Homo sapiens: one gene and its partner. The protein of the gene in region 1 purifies or fractionates together with the protein of each later gene. This does not show direct contact. Each region holds a gene or a part of one and is shown on either strand. Other genes may lie near its edges. The genes, in order: RDM1 and PI4KB.

Evidence for each region.
Region 2: the proteins of RDM1 (region 1) and PI4KB purify together in Homo sapiens (affinity purification with mass spectrometry; 3 studies listed by BioGRID and IntAct, with this or other methods). This does not show direct contact.

The regions. Positions count from the first base shown.
Region 1 is NC_000017.11:35,926,863-35,937,191, reverse strand, and holds the start of RDM1 (RAD52 motif-containing protein 1), read left to right. Parts: upstream 1-6,418; 5' UTR 6,419-6,464; coding exon 6,465-6,560; intron 6,561-6,892; exon of another isoform or gene 6,893-6,909; coding exon of another isoform or gene 6,910-6,936; coding exon 6,937-7,116; intron 7,117-10,329. Other genes in the region: LYZL6 (lysozyme-like protein 6 precursor), read left to right, coding at 359-437, 2,327-2,396. UniProt on the Homo sapiens protein: May confer resistance to the antitumor agent cisplatin. Binds to DNA and RNA.
Region 2 is NC_000001.11:151,302,225-151,312,105, forward strand, and holds part of PI4KB (phosphatidylinositol 4-kinase beta), read right to left. Parts: intron 8,032-9,881; coding exon 7,987-8,031; intron 5,966-7,986; exon of another isoform or gene 5,943-5,965; intron 5,578-5,942; coding exon 5,350-5,577; intron 4,140-5,349; coding exon 3,912-4,139; intron 1,427-3,911; coding exon 1,317-1,426; intron 75-1,316; coding exon 1-74. UniProt on the Homo sapiens protein: Phosphorylates phosphatidylinositol (PI) in the first committed step in the production of the second messenger inositol-1,4,5,-trisphosphate (PIP). May regulate Golgi disintegration/reorganization during mitosis, possibly via its phosphorylation.

The DNA of each region.
Region 1 (10,329 bases):
GCTCCTCGCCTGAAGACCCCCGCTCACTAGGCGGGACATACCTCTGTGGTGTTTTGGCATTTCCTCTCCCTGGAAACCTCCCACAAACTTTGAGTGAACCACTATCTACCCTGGTTAGGAAGAATAGTAGTGAACAGGCCCAAATCTCAGGCCTCTTGCCCCTTCTGCCCACACCCCCTTTCACCTCGAACCTCTAGCAGCCATTGTAGGGATGTCTAAATGGGCCCCCTGGGAGACAGCCTTTGCCTCAACTGGAAGCCTCTAGGTGGCATAGGGCTGTCCAGGGAGGGCTGGTGTCTGCCTCCATCTTTGGGGCTGTCTTCTGTGCCCTCACAGGTTTTCTCTTCCTCCCTTTCAGATCTGCTGAATCCCAACCTTCTTGCAGGCATCCACTGCGCAAAAAGGATTGTGTCCGGAGCACGGGGGATGAACAACTGGTGAGGAGGACACGGTGGGACTCAGCGGGCAGAGCCCCACGAAGGAGGACGTGACAGAGAAAAGGGCAGTAGGCAAGGACTCACGGGCACGCCCTTGCAGTGTCTAGAAAGATGTGGGATAGCGGACGGGCTTGGAACTCTGAGATCTGGTTCTTCTATGATATTGTATTAAACAAAACTCTTCTGGTTGCAGTAACAGAAAACAACTTGAGCTAGCTGGGGGAAATTTATTCTGAGAGGCCCAGATGTCTCACTGAGCCCACTCAAGGGCTGCAGCTGGGCCTCAGGAAGAGCATGGAACCAGGGCTGGAAATTGTCAGCACACTGTCCATGGCAGGTTTCAGCTTCTCTTGGTGCATTTGCTTCACTTCTCTCTCCGCAGACTTTCTCTGCTCCACAGTCTAAAGGACAAAGGGTGCTGCAAAGTTAATAAGCTAAAGTCCTAAGCAACCATAGGGACTGGCTAGGCTCAGTCCCAGTCCAAGTTCCTGGGATAGAGAATCTGATTGGTTCCACTTGGACCATGTGTGCCCCCTTGGTCCAATCAACTGTAGGGATGGGAGGAGTTAAGCAATACAATTATGGCTGCCGCTCGGGCCCTGTGGCCATAATTGACAATATTTTTTTATTTAAAAATGTGGACCGGGCATGGTGGCTCACGCCTGTAATCCCAGCACCTTGGGAGGCTGAGGCAGGTGGATCACTTGAGGTCAGGAGTTCGAGACCAGCCTGGTCAACATGGTGAAGCCCCGTCTCTGTTAAAAATACAAAAAATTAGCTGGTCATGGTGGCGCCTGCCTGTAGTCCCAGCTACTCAGGAGGCTGAGGCAGAAGAATCGCTTGAACCTGGGAGGTGGAGGCTGCAGTGAGCCGAGATCGCGCCACTGCACTCCAGCCTGGGCGGCAGAATGAGACTCTGTTTAAAAAAAAAAAAAAATGTGGCGGCTGGGCGCAGTGGCTCACTCCTGTAATCCCAGCCCTTTGGGAGGCTGAGGTGGGTGGGTCACAAAGTCAGGAGTTCGAGACCAGCCTGGCCAATATGGTGAAACTTTGTCTCTACTAAAAAATACAAAAATTAGCCAGGCGTTGTGGTGGGTGCCTGTCCCAGGCTGCTTTTTGTGTTATGTGGGGATGAGGCACTGACCCTGTGGGCCGGGATCTCTCTGGGGACCTTTCCCTTGCTTTCTGTCCATGCTCCTTAAGGCAAGCTGCATGGGAGGCTGAGGCAGGAGAATCGCTTGAACCCGGGAGCCAGAGGTTGCAGTGAGCTGAGATCGCGCCACTGCACTCCAGCCTGGGTGACAGAGAAAGAATCCGTCTCAAAAAAAGAAACAAAAAACGACAACAAAAAAATGTGGCATTCATCAGCTGGGCAGACACCCACATAGCTGTGAGCTCACCAACGGTGGACATTCAGATAGTCACCTTTTCTGAGCTTCAAACTAGATATATAAGTAACACAAATGGCTGCCTCTACAGGCAACTGTGGAAGGAGTCAAATCCCCTGCATACTCAAAACACCACAGAAAAGAATTGACAGCGATGATTATGCTGATCCTTTCTGGAGGGAGAATCAATGGTTGTACCTGGGACTTTTTTTTTTTTTTTAATAAGTAACTCTCAGCCCTGTAAAACAGTGCTCACCCCTTCAGGGAGATATGAGGATTTTAAAATGTGGAAACGTTGATCCAGGGAAGCAGGCAAACACCAGAGATGAGAGAGTTTTACAGGATTCGTCAGAGGGGACAGTGGAGGACAGACCAGAGGGCTAGCTAGCAATGACGGGGATTCTGGGCGTTGCTCCATATGCGAGACTCACCAAGAACTGGGTCATGTGTGTGGAAGAGTTACTGAGTGTGAGGCAAGAACCATGTCTTTTTTCTCCGCAGGGTAGAATGGAGGTTGCACTGTTCAGGCCGGCCACTCTTCTACTGGCTGACAGGATGCCGCCTGAGATGAAACAGGGTGCGGGTGCACCGTGGAGTCATTCCAAGACTCCTGTCCTCACTCAGGGATTCTTCATTTCTTCTTCCTACTGCCTCCACTTCATGTTATTTTCTTCCCTTCCCATTTACAACTAAAACTGACCAGAGCCCCAGGAATAAATGGTTTTCTTGGCTTCCTCCTTACTCCCATCTGGACCCAGTCCCCTGGTTCCTGTCTGTTATTTGTAAACTGAGGACCACAATAAAGAAATCTTTATATTTATCGAAATATTAAAGCACTCGCTCTGCAAAGACTGTGTCCATTTATTCATTAGTCTACATATATTTGAGTACCTAAGACAGTGGGAGTGTACTAGGTAGTAGAAGGAAGACAAAACACAGCTATTGTTGTTTAGGTGTTCATAATCTAGGTGGAGAAGCAGAGACATCCACAAACATTACAATAGGTAATTAAATGTATAGTAAAATCCATAATTATTGCTTTGAAACAGTATCAGCATCCAAGTAATTCCTCCAAAGAACAATTTTTGAAGTAAAAGAGAAAACTCAGAAGTAGGCAATGGGTGGGGTCTGGTATTGATGTGGAGAAAGTAGTGATGGGATGGAGAAATAGTGGCAGATACCAATAATTTGGGGGTGCTTTGGGAGAATAAGCTAGGATCTAGATGATTAAAAAAAGGTGCTCTGGACAGGATCTGGTTTGCCTGGAGGGTGCTGAGGTGGAGTAGAACATGCTTAAAGAAAAGGCAAAATCAGAAAAGTGACAGTTGAAGGAATGTCCTACACATAGCCACCGTCAGTAGTGTCTGACCAATCTGGGGTTTTATCTTGGACCACTTATTTCTCTACCACTGAGCCTTAGCTGTTTCTACTATAGAAGGAGGGATTTGACTATTCAGTAGTTGCCAGACTTTTGTATTTCACAGGTGATAAAATGTAAAAAATAATTAAACCTGAGATTTCTTTCTTTTTTTTTTTTTTTTGAGACAGAGTCTCACTGCGTAGCCCAGGCTGGAATGCAATGGCAGGATCTTGGCTCACTGCAACCTCCAACTCCCAAGCTCAAGCAATTCTCCTACCTCAGCTTCTCAAGTAGGTGGGACTACAAGTGTGTGCTACTACACCCAGCTAATCTTTTTTTTTTTTTTTTTTGAAATGGAGTCTCACTCTGTCACCCAGGCTGGAGTGCAGTGGCATGATCTCCACTCACTGCAACCTCCGCCTCCTGGGTTCAAGCAATTATCCTGCCTCAGCCTCCCCAGTAGCTGGGATTACAGGCGCCCCCCGACCACACCCGGCTAATTTTTGTATTTTTAGTAGAGACGGGGTTTCACGGTGTTGGCTAGGCTGGTCTCGAACTCTTGACCTCAGGTGATCCACCCACCTCAGCCTCCCAAAGTGCTGGAATTACAGGCATGAGCCACCGTGCCCAGCTATTTTGTATTTTTAGTAGAGACAGGGTTTTACCACGTTGGCCAGCCTGGTCTCAAACTCCTGACCTCAAGTAATCCATCTGCCTCGGCCTCCCAAGTGCTGGGATTATGGATGTCAGGCACCAGGCCCGGCCGAGGTTTCTAATTTTTAATTTTAATGTCCAAGTAAGAGCATTAAAGCAACTATCCTCTATTAGCATCTTTTCATAGAAAAATTTTTAGTATCAACATTATAGGGAGGTCATACTTGTAGAAGAATGGAGTGGAATCTACTTTATTTTATGAAATTATAAAAAACCTGATTATATTTTCCATATGGTCCTCATTTTGTAGAGTAGGGGTGAAAACTTTATCACAGCATGAGTCTGAGGATCATTATTCAGAAATCACAAGAGACTTGTCCTGTAGGGTCTCTTCTGGCTCTGACATTCTAGGATTAAAATAAACAGTAGTAGGACTCACTTTACTTCTTGTGTTACTGAAACTGCCTTTATAAAAATTATGACAAATCTGACCTAACTGATTCCATTTTGCTTCTAACCTCCAAGCTGCCCTTGCTCATTCCTGGGCACAGGCCAAGCTAACTATGAGAGGAATTTTTGCTGCTTAACTTTGAAACAAAGATAATAGTCCCTTCCTGAAACAAACCACCTCCCTGCTTGGGAATCAGATCTCCTCTGTAAAACTAACAAATTAGCCACAAGATTAGAAATTATGGCTCAGAAATTATGTAGACAGAGGCCACAAGATTCCTAACCTCTCCAGTTGCTCCTATACAAAACACTGTTGTAGTCTCAGCAATGCACCAAGATATAACACTCTGTAGTTGTCTGATATAACCCCCGGAGTTCTTTGTCCTACCTCCAAGATGATTAAGGAGCGTGGACACAAAGGTGGGGTTACAGCAAAAGTTTAATAAGCGAAAGAAGAAAGCTCTCTGCCAGCAGAGCGTGGGGGCCAGAACGGGTGTCCCCTGTGAGGCTGGGGTCTTTATGGACTGGGAAGGGGAAGCAATGTGCTTAGTCCGACAGCTGTCTTGGAGAACTCAGCTTGGCAAGGAGCCTTGGCCCAGGACCAATCAGGAGCTGAAATGATTCTTAGATGCTGCTTAGCTTGGCCCAAGACCTATCAGGGGCTGAAGTGATGATTCATAGAGGCTGGACTTACAGGTCCAAAAAGGAAAGTAGAGTGCCCACTGGAACTCACCGGAGCCCACTATGCCCATGCCCACAAAAGTAGAAGCAACTTCATCCTGGGAGCCCACTGACTATACAAAGGACAAAGGCATTTCTATGCCAGGCCTTGTTCTTTTGTCTGAGTGAGCTGAAGTTTTGTGCAAGCTTTTATCCAAATGGGCCAGAGGTTTTTCCATCTGTGCAGCCGTGGGCATGTCTCCAGGCACAACACCCTATGCTAGTTCTCTTATGGGTGCTGGTAGCTTGAATTTTTTCCCAGGCTGCTTTTTATGTTATGTGGGGGTAAGGCACTGACCCTGTGAGCCGGGATCTCTCCGGGGACCCTTCCCTTGCTTTGTGTCCAAGCTAACTAACTGCTTTCAACATTACTATTGTAAAACCTAATATTGGGGTTCTAGGTATTTTTCAGACCCTTCATTCTGATGGACCAGCTGGCACCACTCACATGGGCAAACTGGCTCATCTGGTCTTGCGGCCCCCAACCAGGAATTCACTCAGCACAAGAACACAAGCTCTGACTCTCTATGATTTCATCCTTGACCCAACCAGTCAGCATTTCCTATTCCCTGGCCCCCTGACTGCCAAATTACCCTTTAAAAAACACCAGCTTCCAAATTTTCAGGGAGGCTAAGTTGAGTAATAGTAAAACTCCAGTCTTCTATTTAGCTGGTTCTGTGCTTATGAAACTCTTTGCCTATTTCAATAACACTGTCTCAGTAAATCAGCTTTTCTGGGCAGTGGGTATGATGAACCCACCAGTTGATTACACTCCTCCACCACGTAGCTGATTATGACACCTACCCTTCTCAGACACCATCAGCTCCAATGTTGGTGCCTTATTTGGACTTATTCTTTGTGGGTTTGTTTGTTTGTTTGTTTGTTTTTCTTTTTTCAAAATTAATCTCTCCTTCTCACTCGTACCTCCAACCTCTCACATCATCTGACCCCCACAAGTACACATACACGATTCACCAGAATGACGTAGGACAATCAGGGAATTCTTTTTAAGGATTTCATGCGAGACTGTTAATGGTTTAGTGAGTTATACTTTTATTTGCAATTTTAAACTCTTAAAAAAACCTCTTAAGTCAAAAGATTGCATCTTTCGTGGTTATTTCCCACAAGTGCTAATACTTAGTACCCTAATCTCCTTCAGGAGTGAAGATGAAGCTGGCTTCTATAAACACGTCCCTACCCTTCCATCCTGTCAGCCTATTTTGGGACTTTACCCTAAACATGCATTGAACGGAAGCTCTAAACTCAGGGATCTTGTGGCTGTGACTGGAGGAGGGGAACAGACTCAGAGGCTGGCCCTAGGTAGGAGGGGCAAGGGAGCGATCCGAGCCCCGTCCCCGCCCCTCGCATGCGCCTCTTTTTAAAAAAGCGCGGGCGTGCCTTGCGCAGGCGCAATGCTGGGGCGAGGGTTAGCCGCGCAGGTGCGGTGAAGGGAGGATGGCGGAGTTGGTACCTTTTGCGGTTCCCATCGAGAGTGACAAAACCTTGCTAGTGTGGGAGCTGAGCTCCGGACCCACGGCCGAGGCTTTGCATGTGAGCCGGGGCCAGGATGGAGGGAGGGATGGAGAAAGCTGCCCACCCGCTGACTGGGAGTTCCGGAGTCCTGCCTCAGACCCTCACCTGCCTGAGCCTCCGCTGAAGGACTCTTAATTATAAAGGGGATCCCAACTGACAACTGACGACCCCCAACAGATTTTTAGAGTCCCGGAGAGGTATCTCTCCACCTTCAGAACGTTTTACCTTCCAGTGCTTCTTAAAGTTTAGGATTTTAAGAGGAAAACCTGTTGATTAAGTGGGAAGTGTTTTGAATCGCATCCTTCGCGAAGAGAGGTTTGGGGAATATGAGGGCATGTGCGGTTTTGTTTTCTGGGCGTGAGATTTCATGCATTTACTTGTCCCACCCCCACAGCATTCTCTGTTCACAGCATTTTCTCAGTTTGGCCTTCTGTATTCAGTCCGGGTCTTCCCAAATGCTGCAGTGGCCCATCCTGGTTTCTATGCCGTCATTAAGTTTTATTCTGCAAGGGCTGCCCACAGAGCCCAAAAGGCATGCGACCGGAAGCAGCTTTTTCAGAAATCTCCAGTCAAGGTGGGTCCAAATATGGAATTCCTAGCTCCGCTGAAATGAAGTGCTGAATTCAATAATAGGTTAGCATTTGTCCAGCACGCTGGTTTACAGAATATTTTCAGATGCATTGCCACACTAATCTTCCAGTTCTCTGGGTTTTTTACATGAAGAAACTCAAACTCAAGGTGGTTGAGCGACTTGTTTAAGGTTCCTGACAAGAATTATGGAAACTCGAGATTGAACTAAAACCTACTGATGCTAAACCTCATGTCATTTTATGCTGTCCCTTTTTAAGAAATCTCAGCTTGGGCAACAAAATGAGACCCCATCTCTATAAAAAAAATTGTAAAGATAAGGCTGGGCACCGTGGCTCATGCCTGTAATCCCAGCACTTTGGGAGATCGAGGCGGGCTGATCACTTGAGGCCAGCAGTTTGAGACCAGCCTGGGCAACATAGCAAAACTCCATCTGTACTATAAATACAAAAACTAGCCGGGCATGGTGGCATGCGCCTGTAGTCCCAGCTACTCGGGAGGCTGAAGCATGGGAATTACTTGAACCCAGGAGGTGGAGGCTGCAGTGACCCGAGATTGTGCCACTGCACTCTAGCCTGGGTGACAGAGTGAGACTCCATCTCAAAAAAAGAAAGAAAGAAAAATAAAAAATTAAATATCAGCCAGATGTGGCATGCACCTGTAGTCCCAGCTACTTGGGAGACTGAGGTGGGAGGATCGCTTGAGCCCAGGAGTTTGAGGATGCAGTGAGCAATAATTGCATCACTGCACTCCTGCCTGGGCCACAGAGTGAAACCCTATCTCTAAAAAATGACTGAATGAATGAAATCTTTGCCAGAAGACTTCTGCTTATATTTACTTTTTAATTTTTTTAGAGACAGAGTATCCCTGTGTTGCCCAGGCTGGTCTCTAAATCCTGGCCTCAAGCAGTCCTCCTGCCTCAGCCTCTTAAGTAGCTAGGTACAGGCCACCATGCCCAGCTATATTTACTTTTTATTTTTATTTTTTGAGATGGAGTCTCATTTTGTCACCCAGGCTGGAGAGCAGTGGCATGATCTTGGCTCACTGCAACCTCTGCCTTCCGGGTTCAAGTGATTCTCCTGCCTCAACCTCCTGAGTAGCTGGGACTACAGGCGCCTGCCACCACACCTGGCTAATTTTTGTATTTTAGTAGAGATGGGGTTTCACCATGTTGGCCAGTCTGGTCTCGAATTCCTGACCTCAAGTGATCCACCCACCTCAGCCTCCCAAAGTGCTGGGACTACAGGTGTGAGCCACTGTGCCCAGCCATATATTATATATTTACTTTTTTTTTTTTTAAAGACAGAGTTTCGCTCTTGTTGCCCAGGCTGGAGTGCAATGGTGTGATCTCAGCTCACCACAACCTCCGCCTCCCGGGTTCAAGCGATTCCCCTGCCTCAGCCTCCCAAGTAGCAGGGATTACAGGCATGCACCACCACGCCTGGCTGATTTTGTATTTTTGGTAGAGATGGTGTTTCTCCATGTTGGTCAGGCTGGTCTCGAACTCCTGAACTCAGGTGATCTACCCGCCTCAGCCTCCCAAAGTGCTGGGATTACAAGCGTGAGCCACCGCGCCCAGCCTATATATTTAGTTTTATGTGAATTTAAAATGTGTGGGTGTGACCAGGTCTTCTGCCAGCTGTTACATAAAGGAGACTGTATCATCATCATCACATCATCATCATCATACTCACCATGGCTCACAAACTGCCTGTTTGAAACTCCCTTCAGTTCTGAGAGGATGGGAACATTCTTTAAGCGGTATTGTAGAAACCCTATTCCATATTAACATGCCAACCAATTTTACTTTCCCAGAGCCACAGAATGATATCTCATTGTATGCCTCAATTCAGTCATCTTTCCCTTTTCAAGGACCATTTCAATTCCTGATTGGCTACTTGATCTGACTGCTTCCTACTAATCTTGCTGCCTATTCTTCTCTATATTCCATTCCTCATTGAATTAACCTTGATCAAATCTGAGAACTCTGCTTAGTAATGACTCCAGGTATACTACTCCCACTTCAGTAGCCTGTTCAATGCCCTCTTAGCCTGTTCAACACCCTCTTCAATCCTGGTTCCACTTTCTGTGACTGAAATGATTACCTGTGAGATATTATTTAACTTTTGAACTATGGTCTGTTTCTAACCTGTGACCATTTCACATAGCCACTCAAATATTATAAAGGTACAACTAAGATTATGAAACATTTACTTGGTATCATTTTGCAAATAATGAGTTTTTAGTGCTCTTTGGACATTGAGACCATTTCATAAGCTTTAGGTTTTGAGAATTTCACAGCATAAAGCCTATCACTGAGACAGTAATGAAGGAAATGTTCTACAACTCAATAGATAGGTGAGATGAGAGGGCATTCATACTAGATTTATTACTAAACTCAAAGCTTTCAGTTACTACTCACCCCCCACTGTAATCTAGTTTAAGTGTTCTTTTCTACTTTAGCACGTACACTTAGTTCCTGTCTTTTTTGCCTTTCTAAATACAGAAAAGAGAATAATGTTTTAAAATAAAATCAAGGAAAGGCCTAAGGCACCTGAGAGGGTTTTGTTTTTGCTTTTTGGGTTTTTGTTTTTTTGTTTGGTTTTTTCGTTTTGTTTTTTTGAGATGGAGTCTTGCTCTGTCACCCAGGCTGGAGTGCAATGGCATGATCTCAGCTCACTGCAGCCTCTGCCTCCCGGGTTTAATTGATTCTCCTGCCTCAGCCTCCAGAGCAGCTGGGATTACAGGCGTGCACCACCACGCCCAGCTAATTTTTGTATTTTTGGTAGAAACAAGATTTCTCCATGTTGGCCAGGCTGGTCTTGAACTCCTGACCTCAAGTGATCTGCCGCCTCGGCCTCCCAAAGTGCCGGGATTACAGGTGTGAGCCACCGTGCCCGGCCAAGAGGGTTTTTTGGTTCTTTTTTTTTTTTTTTTTTTTTTTTTGGTGAAATGAAGGAAAATGGTTGCTGCAAAGTTATCCAAGCTGACAGCTGTCTGTGCCACCCAGAGGCTCAGAGTTTTTCTGAAGCTTCCTGGTTGTCTGGAAAGGCTCCACTGTGACTCACGATACAGGCCGGTCTCGCCAGTGGCACTCAACGTTTAAAAACTGGTCTTTATTTCTTTCCCAACAGGCATTTCTCCTTCTTTTCAGTTGGAGAAAGTAATTTCATTTTTTACTTGCTCATTGTTTTATTCA
Region 2 (9,881 bases), on another chromosome or scaffold:
CAACTGCAGAAGGATCTTCTGGGTCTCGTTTGAAGGCTGTCGGGGTATGAGCCAGCTGTTCCGAAAGGCGCCGGCTGGCAGGAAGAAAATACATCATTTGCTTGGAGAAGCTACCCCCAAGCCCCATGCCCAGTCTATACTGACATTTCCTGCACTGTCTCCTGGATTCTGGACACACAAAGATAGGAACCCAGGCTGAAAGGGACTCATGGAAGAAAACATAACCAATGACACCTTTTTGCTAACTGATTGTAATCATGTTAAAATTAAGATTACCAGGCCCTCCATATTCCTCTACCAAGGCTGATTCAGAATGGGTGTGTCTCTAGAATTTGCATTTTTCTTTTCTTTTCTTTTTTTTTTTTTTTTTGAGATAAGAATCTCGCTGTGTCTCCCAGGCTGGAGTGCAGTGGCGAGATCTCGGCTCACTGCAAGCTCCGCCTCCTGGGTCCACGCCATTCTCCTGCCTCAGCCTCCCGAGTAGCTGGGACTACAGGCGCCCACCACCACGCCCAGCTAATTTTTTTTTTGTATTTTTTTGGTAGAGATGGGGTTTCATCGTGTTAGCCAGGATGGTCTCGATCTCCTGACCTTATGATCTACCCGCCTCAGCCTCCCAAAGTGTTGGGATTACAGGCGTGAGCCACCGCACCCAGCCTAGAATCTGCATTTTCAACAAGTCCTCCTTCCTCCCCCTGGATTCTGACACAGTCGCTTTGAGACCCCACCTTGAGACACACTGCTCAAACTCCTTCCTCTGGTGCTTTCTTGTTTTTTTTTTTTTTTTTTTTTGAGACGGAGTCTCGTTCTGTCGCCCAGGCTGGAGTGCAGTGGTGCGATCTCGGCTCACTGCAAGCTCCGCCTCCCGGGTTCACGTCATTCTCCTGCCTCAGCCTCCCAAGTAGCTGGGACTACAGGCATCCGCCACCACGCCTGGCTAATTTTTTTGTATTTTTAATAGAGACGGAGTTTCACCGTGTTAGCCAGGATGGTCTCGATCTCCTGACCTCGTGATCTGCCCGCCTCGGCCTCCCAAAGTGATGGGGTTACAGGTGTGAGCCACTATGCCCGGCCCCTCTGGTGCTTTCATCCCTTTGGAGTCTTTTTAAAATTTAATTTCCTTCTTTGGTAGCCCAAGTAATTTCTCAACCTACACCTTCATTGCCTCAAGTTTGGTGGCCCCAAACAAGGACAGAATGAAAGAGGGAAAGACACAGGCCAACAACAGATGATTGAGATGGAGAGGAAGGTAACAAAGAGATGGGAAGTTCCTGAAAGAGGGATGAAAAATGAGGGGCAATGTGATCTGGCCATACCGGATGTCCCCTGCTGCAATGAACACAGGCTCCTTGCTCTCCTGGCTGGTGATGCTGTCCACAGAGAACTGGGAGATGTTGTCACAGCTGTTGGTATGCACTTCGGGGAGCTGGAGAAAGGGGAGTGCTGGTCAGAAGTGCTAAAGTATAGGTCTCCCGTCTTTCCCCTCCTGCTTGCTTGCTATCACTGCAGCATGCTCATCCCTCTCTTTCAAACTCTGCTTACACACCATGTTGGTTACTGGGACCCCAGGCTGCCCAGAGCAGCATTTCTCAACATGTGAACTACCTGCAGTAGAATTACCCAGAATGCAGATTCCCAGGCCCCACCATCAATCTGAATTATAATTACTAGGAATGGGATCTGAAAGTCTGAATTTTTAACAAGTTCTCCAGAAGACTTCCAATGCACTAAAGTTTGCAAACCACTGCCATGACCATTACAGGAGCTCAAAATTTCAGCCTCACTGAGAGTCCCCCAAGGATAGGGATGCGTTCTCCCCTAGGGTCCAAAGCAGACTCTTTGCAGACTAGCTTCTGACAGTTTCTTCAATCTAAGTCATTCAATCTTATCTTCTCATCTCTCTCTAAATACAGAATATTCTACCAGACCCCAAGGCCCATGTCAAGTCTCTTCTGTCCTTCATACCAGAGCATTTCTTCTCAACTCCATTTGTCACCTAGTACACACTGCTTTGTTGTATATCTAAATTTTTTTTTCTTAAATGTCTAATTTCTGCAATTGGACTATAAGCTCAAAGACAGAGATTCTGCCTTTTGGCAAAGTGAAACCTGGCTGTGTGTTTTTTTTTTTTTTTTTTAGACGGAGTTTCGCTCTTGTTGCCCACGCTGGAGTGCAATGGTGTGATCTCGGCTCACTGCGACCTCCGCCTCCCAGGTTCAAGCGATTCTCCTGCCTCAGCCTTCTGAGTAGCTGGGATTACAGGCGCGCGCCACCATGCCTGGCTAATTTTTTGTATTTTTAGTAGGAACGGGGTTTCACCATGTTAGTCAGGCTGTTCTTGAACTCCTGACCTCAGGTGATCTGCCCACCTCAGCCTCCCGAAGTGCTGGGATTGCAGGCGTGAGCCACCGCGCCTGGCCCTGGCTGTGTTTTTGTTTTGTTTTGTTTTAAGACAGAGTCTCACTCTGTCACCCAGGCTGGAGTGCAGTGCTGTGATCTCAGCTCCCTGCAGCCTCCGCCTCCCAGGTTCAAGTGATTCTTGTGCTTCAAGAATCACTTGCCTCCCGAGTAGCTGGGATTACAGGCATGTTCCACCACACCTGGCTTTTTTTTTTTTTTCTTTTGAGACGGAATTTTGCTTGTCACCCAGGCTGAAGTGCAGTGGCGTGATCTTGGTTCACTGCAACCTCCGCCTCCTGGGTTCGAATAATTCTACTGCCTCAGCCTCCCGATTAGCTGGGATTACAGGCACATGCCACCACGCCCGGCTAATTTTTGTATTTTTAGTGGAGACGGGGTTTCACCATGTTGGCCAGGCTGGTCTCGAACTCCTGACCTCAGGTGATCTGCTCGCCCTGTCCTCCCAAAGTGCTGGGATTACAGGCGTGCGCCACCGCACCCGGCATAATTTTTCTAGTTTTAGTGGAGATGGAGTTTCACCTTGTTGGCCAGGCTGGTCTCGAAATCCTGACTTCAAGCGATCCACCCACCTCGGCCTCCCAAAGTGTTGGGATTACAGGTGTGAGCCACTGCGCCTGGCCAGCTGTGTTAATAGCTCTACACAAAATTCTGCTCTGGCTCTTCATGCCCCAGAATAAAGTTCAAGTTTCTTTCCCCAGCTTACAGGGTCCTTCCTATAGTCTGGTCCATGCCCACGTGTCCAGTCTTATTCTTCACCACTTCTTACCTCACACCTGCACATCACAGCCAGGCAAAATTTCTTTCAATTCCTATAATGGCCCAAGCTCCCTCTTGTCTTCTGGCCTTTGCATGCAGTGTTCCCTCTGTCCAGCACTCTTTGTCCAGCTAATTCCTACCCATGCTTCCAGCCTCAGCTGAGAGATTACTTCCTCCAGGAAATCTCTTGTGATGCCCGCCCCAAGTCTGGTGCTCTTATAATGTCCTATCCTTTCCCCCATGACTTGACTCTCACCACACTACAACTACTTGCTTACTGGCCTTGTTCTCTTTCCAGTTAGGTCATAAATCCCTTGTAGGCAGGGGCCAAGTCTTGTTCACTAGCATACAGCACTCAGGTCTGGCACATAGAAGGCCCTCAATAAAAATTTCTTGAATGAATTAATGTATGACTTCTCATCCTCTGCTATTCTATGACAACTTTATGTAGGTGTTCAATAAATATTTTCATTAAATTTCCCTCACTCCCCTTGGCCTAGAAGCTCCTCTTTACATTTAAATCTGAATCCTTCACCTGGAAAATGAACTCCACCTGAATCTATTCCAGGCTAGAGTTGTTCAGAGCTTTCCCCATATTACCCCTCACTACCTACACCACTCATTAGGATACTTGCCTTACCCTGCCTTGGGATATGCTGTCTTGTTTCCAATATAGTGAAAGCTCCTGGAGAAAGCTCCTGTGACCCAGCATTACCTCCCTGAAGCCCTCTCACCTCCACTTGCAGCTCGCCTATGTCATCCACCGACCAGGCCTCATCATCGTTGTCATAGTTGGGCACAGTGCTGAAGCTGCCAGCTCGCTGCTCATGGGTAATACCACATTCGGGCAAGTTTTCTACGGACCTCGTACTCCGAATTCGGTTCTCGGGGATCCGGGCAGGGACACTGGTGGTGTCAAAGTTTTCACATTCAAGGACTTCCACATAAATCAGGTAGGGAGCCTGGGGGAAGAGTGAGACAGTATTTGCAACTTACTTCCACCACTAACCCCCAAATCTCAACTCTGTTAGCAAGGTTCTTCCTGCTGTCCTTTCTCCTAGCTCCAGCCTTCATCCAATAGTCCTCTGAAACTATGAACACTATATTTAGGGCAGATACTTGTCCTATGATCACCTATGTAAAGAATTTGTGTGACAGAATCCTTAAGTCTTCAAAATATTTCAACTGAGCTCCAAAATGTACAGATGATGTGCTTGGGCCAAACCACTCTAGACTATCAATTACAGGCTGTAAGGGAGGCCTAGATGCCTCTGTGGGCTCGTCCTGAAGACAGGGCCCAGGGAGCTACAGTGGACAAAAAGACTGGGACAAAGCTGGGCACTGTCCCAAGGAGTGTCCCAAACTTCAGTATTTCCTTTGAAAGAAGAATATGGGCCGGGCGCGGTGGCTCACGCCTGTAATCCTAGCACTTTGGGGGGCCGAGGCGGGTGGATCATGAGGTCAGGAGTTCAAGACCAGCCTGGCCAAGATGGCGAAACCCCGTCGCTACTAAAACTACAAAAATTAGCCGGGTGTGGTGGCAGGCGCCTGTAATCCCAGCTACTCAGGAGGCTAAGGCAGGAGAATCGCTTGAACCTGGGTTGCGGAGGTTGCAGTAAGCCAAGATTGTGCCACTGCACTCCAGCCTCCGCAATAGAGTGAGACTCCATCTCAAAAAAAAAAGAAGAATCTGAACCATGAATACTCATTCCAGTCAGCACACAAATTCAGCTAATTCTCTCCAGTGTGAATTGGGCATCCTTCTCTCCTTTTGTCGGCTCATTCTGATCAGAAAAGGTCTTAGAAACAAAATATTTCTCTATCCTTATGGTTGCTGTATCTGGAAAGCCCAAGAGTTATAGAAAGGCTGGAGAAAAGCTACCAAAATGACCATAAGGTGGGGTGAAGAGCAATTCTCCTAAGATACAGCAAGAAGGAAGCTAAAAAGATTAGGTTTCTTTGGTCCAGAAAAACAAAGCCCAAAAAGGGATACAGGGGGGCTCTCAAAATCACAATCGCACTGAGACAGAGTCATGGTTGACATATGCATCATGAACTATGAAGGGAGTCTAGGATGTTGGTGAGGGCCTCACTGGTCATACACGCAAACTCTGAACAACCATGGGTGAAGAGTCACGTCCAGGGTAGGGGTTTGGGCCAGAACCCATCTACCTTGTCCTTGGAGTTGAGGACAACAGCCTGTGTGTGGGGTACACGGACCACGTGGTGGTCAAAGCCAGCAGTGGGCAGCCAGACTCGGGCAGGGAGCTTATGGTTGAGCAGGGAGAGCTCTGAGATCAGCCTCTGTGTTTTCTGCTCTTTGGTGGGGAGCGTGGCCAGCCGCTTGCCGATCGCCATCAGGGACTTGATGAATTCTCTCTCAGGAGCCAGTCGAACAGGCTACAGGGGTTTGGGGTAAGACAAAAGATGGTGAAGAAACCATAGAATACAATGGCACACCCACTCAGTCACTCCTGGCCATGCAGGCCGGGGACCCCACTATCTGGAGAACTCCAGGAAAGCAGCTGCTTTTTAGTCTTAGTAGGAGCTTCCACCCACCCTTCACAACTTGAATTGAGAATAGCCAGCACATTCCTTCCCTATAGGCTATCCCTTGAGGGTAAGGGAGGCCATGAGTCCAGGTAACTGGGATGCACTCCTCTTCTCCTGGACTTGGGTTCCTTAAGGACTGTACCAAGGCTTCAGAGTGAGCAGGGGGACATCTGGATAGGTTAGCCAGGGCCACAGAGAGAAGAGCTGCTTACACCTGAATTGTTTCACCCTTTTCAAGAACAGGGTTGTCCTTCTCCCCATCTGGATCCTTGGGCTAGATCTCTGCCGAGGGGCTCCGTCAAGTCCCGCAAGGCTAGAGAAGGGAGCCCCACATCATTTCCACTTTCAAAGAGGGAAGATGCTCGTCATTCAAATTACTTCTGTTGATTTCCATGGTATCCCCCTGTCCGTCCCACAATCTCTTACCAGGCGTCAATGCACATGCAGGGGATGGAAAGAGGATGAGCCGATGAGCAGACTTTGCATTAATCAAGGAGAAAGAAAAAGCAGATGGAAGGAGGTAGGTAGATGGAGAAAGCAACAGCTCCTTTTAGCCCTTGATGATGGCCCTGAAGGCCTGTCTCTTTTAGTGACTCCTCTTTGGGTCCTCTTCCCCTACCTCTCAGTGACTAGGTTCCTCATATTAATTCCCTGCTGTGAGTTTGGCTCCTTGTGCTGGGCAATTCAGTCATCCTCAGAAAGAGCAAAGTTGGTCTTGGAATTAAGGTGCAGGTGGGGAAAAAGAGGGACTCAGCTAGACACGAAGAAAGGCTCTCTTCCCAGTCTAAGCCCTTCTACCGTAAGGGGCATTTTATCAAGACAGCCACCCAACTCCCCATCCCATCTCCCCTCCTTTGTAGAAACAGCATTTGACTCACCAAGCCTTTCTCTCCCTTTCCGTGTGTCTTGCTTAGTTTCTGGATTGAGAGAATTTCTATCCTTGCTCCCTCGAACTCTAAAAGAGCTTCTTTTGAAAACTGGGGAGTATCAGGCCTACCTCTACATGTGCAACAGTGCCAGGATTCAAAGGAAAAGCTCATTCCAGCCTCTGCCTCTTGGGAGATGGTTCAGAGTGCCACATAGGGACTGAAAGAGGGTGTCTGAATCCTTCAGGAATGCTTTAAGTGACATTGTTGAAAAGAGATAAAGAAAAGGAAAACAATGGAATTGGGTTTCTAAGGTCCCTGGAAATATCCTGGGGGTCTAATAGAGAAAGAAAATAAGAGGAAATTTGAAGACTCACTTCTTCCTTCATCTGAATCCACTCAGATGGCAACTGATCTCTGTCCCAAGGACCCTCTACCCCACCCAATTCATAATCATCTCAGATTAGAAAAGGCAGAATTCCTTCCCATTCTCAAATCAGCATTTGGGTTAGGGGCCCCTAAGTTACGTGAGCATGTTAGAAATGTGACCCCAGGCCTCAAGAGAGAGGCTCTGCCACATGAGAGGAGATAGGAATCATGACTGAAAGGGGATTAGCACAGAACAGAGAAAACTGATTTGATAGACAAATCAAATAGAAAATATAAAAAAAATCAGCCAAACTCCCAGAGGTCCTGCATTTCCTCTCACGTCTTTGCCCAGCAACAAGGTCCAAGACCCTGTGGGACCAAAGGGTCAGGGGTTAGTCCAGAGGGAACAAGAAAGGAGAGGGGATTAAGGAACATCCTGGGCAGTGAGCTGGGAAAAGGGAAGAACTCAGACCTGGAAAAAATGTGGTTGAAGTTAAAAAAGAAAACCAGTTGTGGAGAGGCAAAACTTTCCTTCAGGCCAAGTCCTATTTGTTTTTGGAGTCAGCTCACCAGCACAGGGCCTAGCATTTAGAAGATTATGAATAAATATTTGATAATCTGACGGCAGAAGCCATGGGGAAAGGGTTCTGGGTGGGAGAAACAGGATCCTGGGGGTTTCTGCCAGGCAGTTTTTGGCTCTAATCCAGGAGTGAATTCTACCTCTCTCCCAGCTGTTTGCTCCAGACACTCAGGAGCTGGGGGCTGAGCAGCACTGTACTCCAGCTGTCTCTGAGAGAAGGATCAGCTGAGCTCATCTCAGCCTGGGCTCAGGATTTCCACCGCAAAGGTCAGGGGAACTCCAGCAGATCTGGGAGGTCTGGGAGGGAGGAGCTGATCTCCCAGTAAGAAAAGGGGCATTTTAACTCCAGCCTTGGCCTGGGGGCTCAGAAGACCTGGGGACGGAGAGGAAATGCGGCCACTGGGGGAGCCTGCCACCCCGTCCCAGCCTGGCCCCACTTACGGAACTGAATGAATTATCAATACTCTCGGTGCTGGAGGAGAGCTCCTGGGAAAGGGCCAGAGGGCAAAGGGAGAAGGAGGGGGTGGGAAGGGAGGGGAGAGAGACAAAGGTAAAGAATTTAGCTCCAACTTGGATCGTAACTGCTTCTCTAGTGAAGTTCTACCTTTCTGCTTTAATAAAAGAAAGTCAACTCAGAAATGCTACTTGCCCAGATGCTTGACCACTTGTAGGAGATGCTGGAAGGGCAGCTCAGACTTTAAGGTCAGAAGGACTGAAGAGACAAAGCAGCCTCTGCTTTTCACTTTATTCACTTCTATTCTCAACTGAATGGATCTTCCTTCTAGGCCAAAGCTCTAAAGCTGGGTCCCTAGGGCAGTAACTGCACTGCCAAGCTTCCCTGCTCTTTTTTTTTACCCACTCACATGCTCTCAACCAAATCCTTCTCCATGGGGACCACCACAGGACTGAACTTAATAAGCTGCATGGCTCCCATACTGGAAACCCCATGTTCCTCCAGCTTTTTGGAAACCTCAGGGAGGAAGAAAAGCTAAACTTTCAGTGGCAGGTATACCTCTTCTCTAATTAGCCTCATTATCACCCTGGGAAGCTGAATCCCAACCTTGAACCTCTGTGACAAAGAGCATCCTAGACCAATAAGCCCAAAATCTCTGGGCTGGATGCTGATGGGAGTGAAGGATAAATCAATCTCCTATCTACCAAACCTCCTTAGGCTTCCTATCAGGCTATCCACATGACAATCAATATACTACAATTTTTGATATAAGTTGGGGAGTTAGCTATATCCATCTAGAAAGCTGACTAGCTGGATAGCAGCTGTCCTAGTCCCAGCCCAGAGGATTTATCTAAACATCACCCCATTGCTGTGTCATATGTGTCCGTGTGCAAAAACAGGGGAAAGAGATGGTGTCAAACTCTCACTCAGCAGCTCTGAGGCAACACTCATGCACAGGGCTCATCCTGGGTTCTGTCCAACATGGTCTACCAGGGCAGGGAACAGAGCAGCACGTGTGCACAAATCTAGGTTGTGGGGGACGTTGAGGTCGGGGTGGGGGAGGTTAGACTTAAAAGACAAAGTCCTAAGAGCTCCCAGGGCAGGAGGGCAGTGGTGAGTTTCTACTCTGAAATCTGCTGAGTAGATTCAAGCATCCACTTGAACTCAATTCCATGGTTTCAGTTCTATTCTAGCTGGAGGTCCTATAGTCAGGTCCTTCCTTGAAGAATCTGGGGACTGGAGCACTTTGAGGGAGAAGCCACATTTGGAAACATGCCCCTAAGGCAACAACTCTTCCATTTTGGGTAGAAGGTGGTGGGAGAATTAAGGCAGTGAGGATGTCAGAGTCTATTATGAATTAGTGGTTCTATTTCTACCTATGAGCTGGTTGGAGAAGGAACAGCAGGCAAGATATTGGCTCCCTGAGCAACGCTCCAGCTGATTCTGTCACAGACAGGTCCTGTCTGACTCATTGACAGCCCTGGGGGAAGGGAGGTATATCATGACCTGCTCCTCTCCTACTCCCTGGGCTTGAGTCACTCACACTGAGTCAGCTCCGGGGAGTAAAGATGAAGCAAGAAGCTGACATCACACCATATCAAGCTAGAAGGCCTACTGGGGCTTCCAGTGTGACATGCGGCAGATTTCTCTGTACAAAGGTTGCAGTCCTGAAAAGACAAAGCTAATCTACTAACAGTGTCATCATATCGGGGAGGGTGTGATACCTAAATCACTCTCTCCTTTTAGCTCCCCCATTCTATACCAAAATATTTGCCATTTGGTTACAAATGGGAGGACAAACTGCCTGGGCAGAGTTCCCCGACTAGGCTGATAAAATGGCTTTGAAGCGGCAGGCTTTGAGGAGCAGTGGTGGAAAATGTGA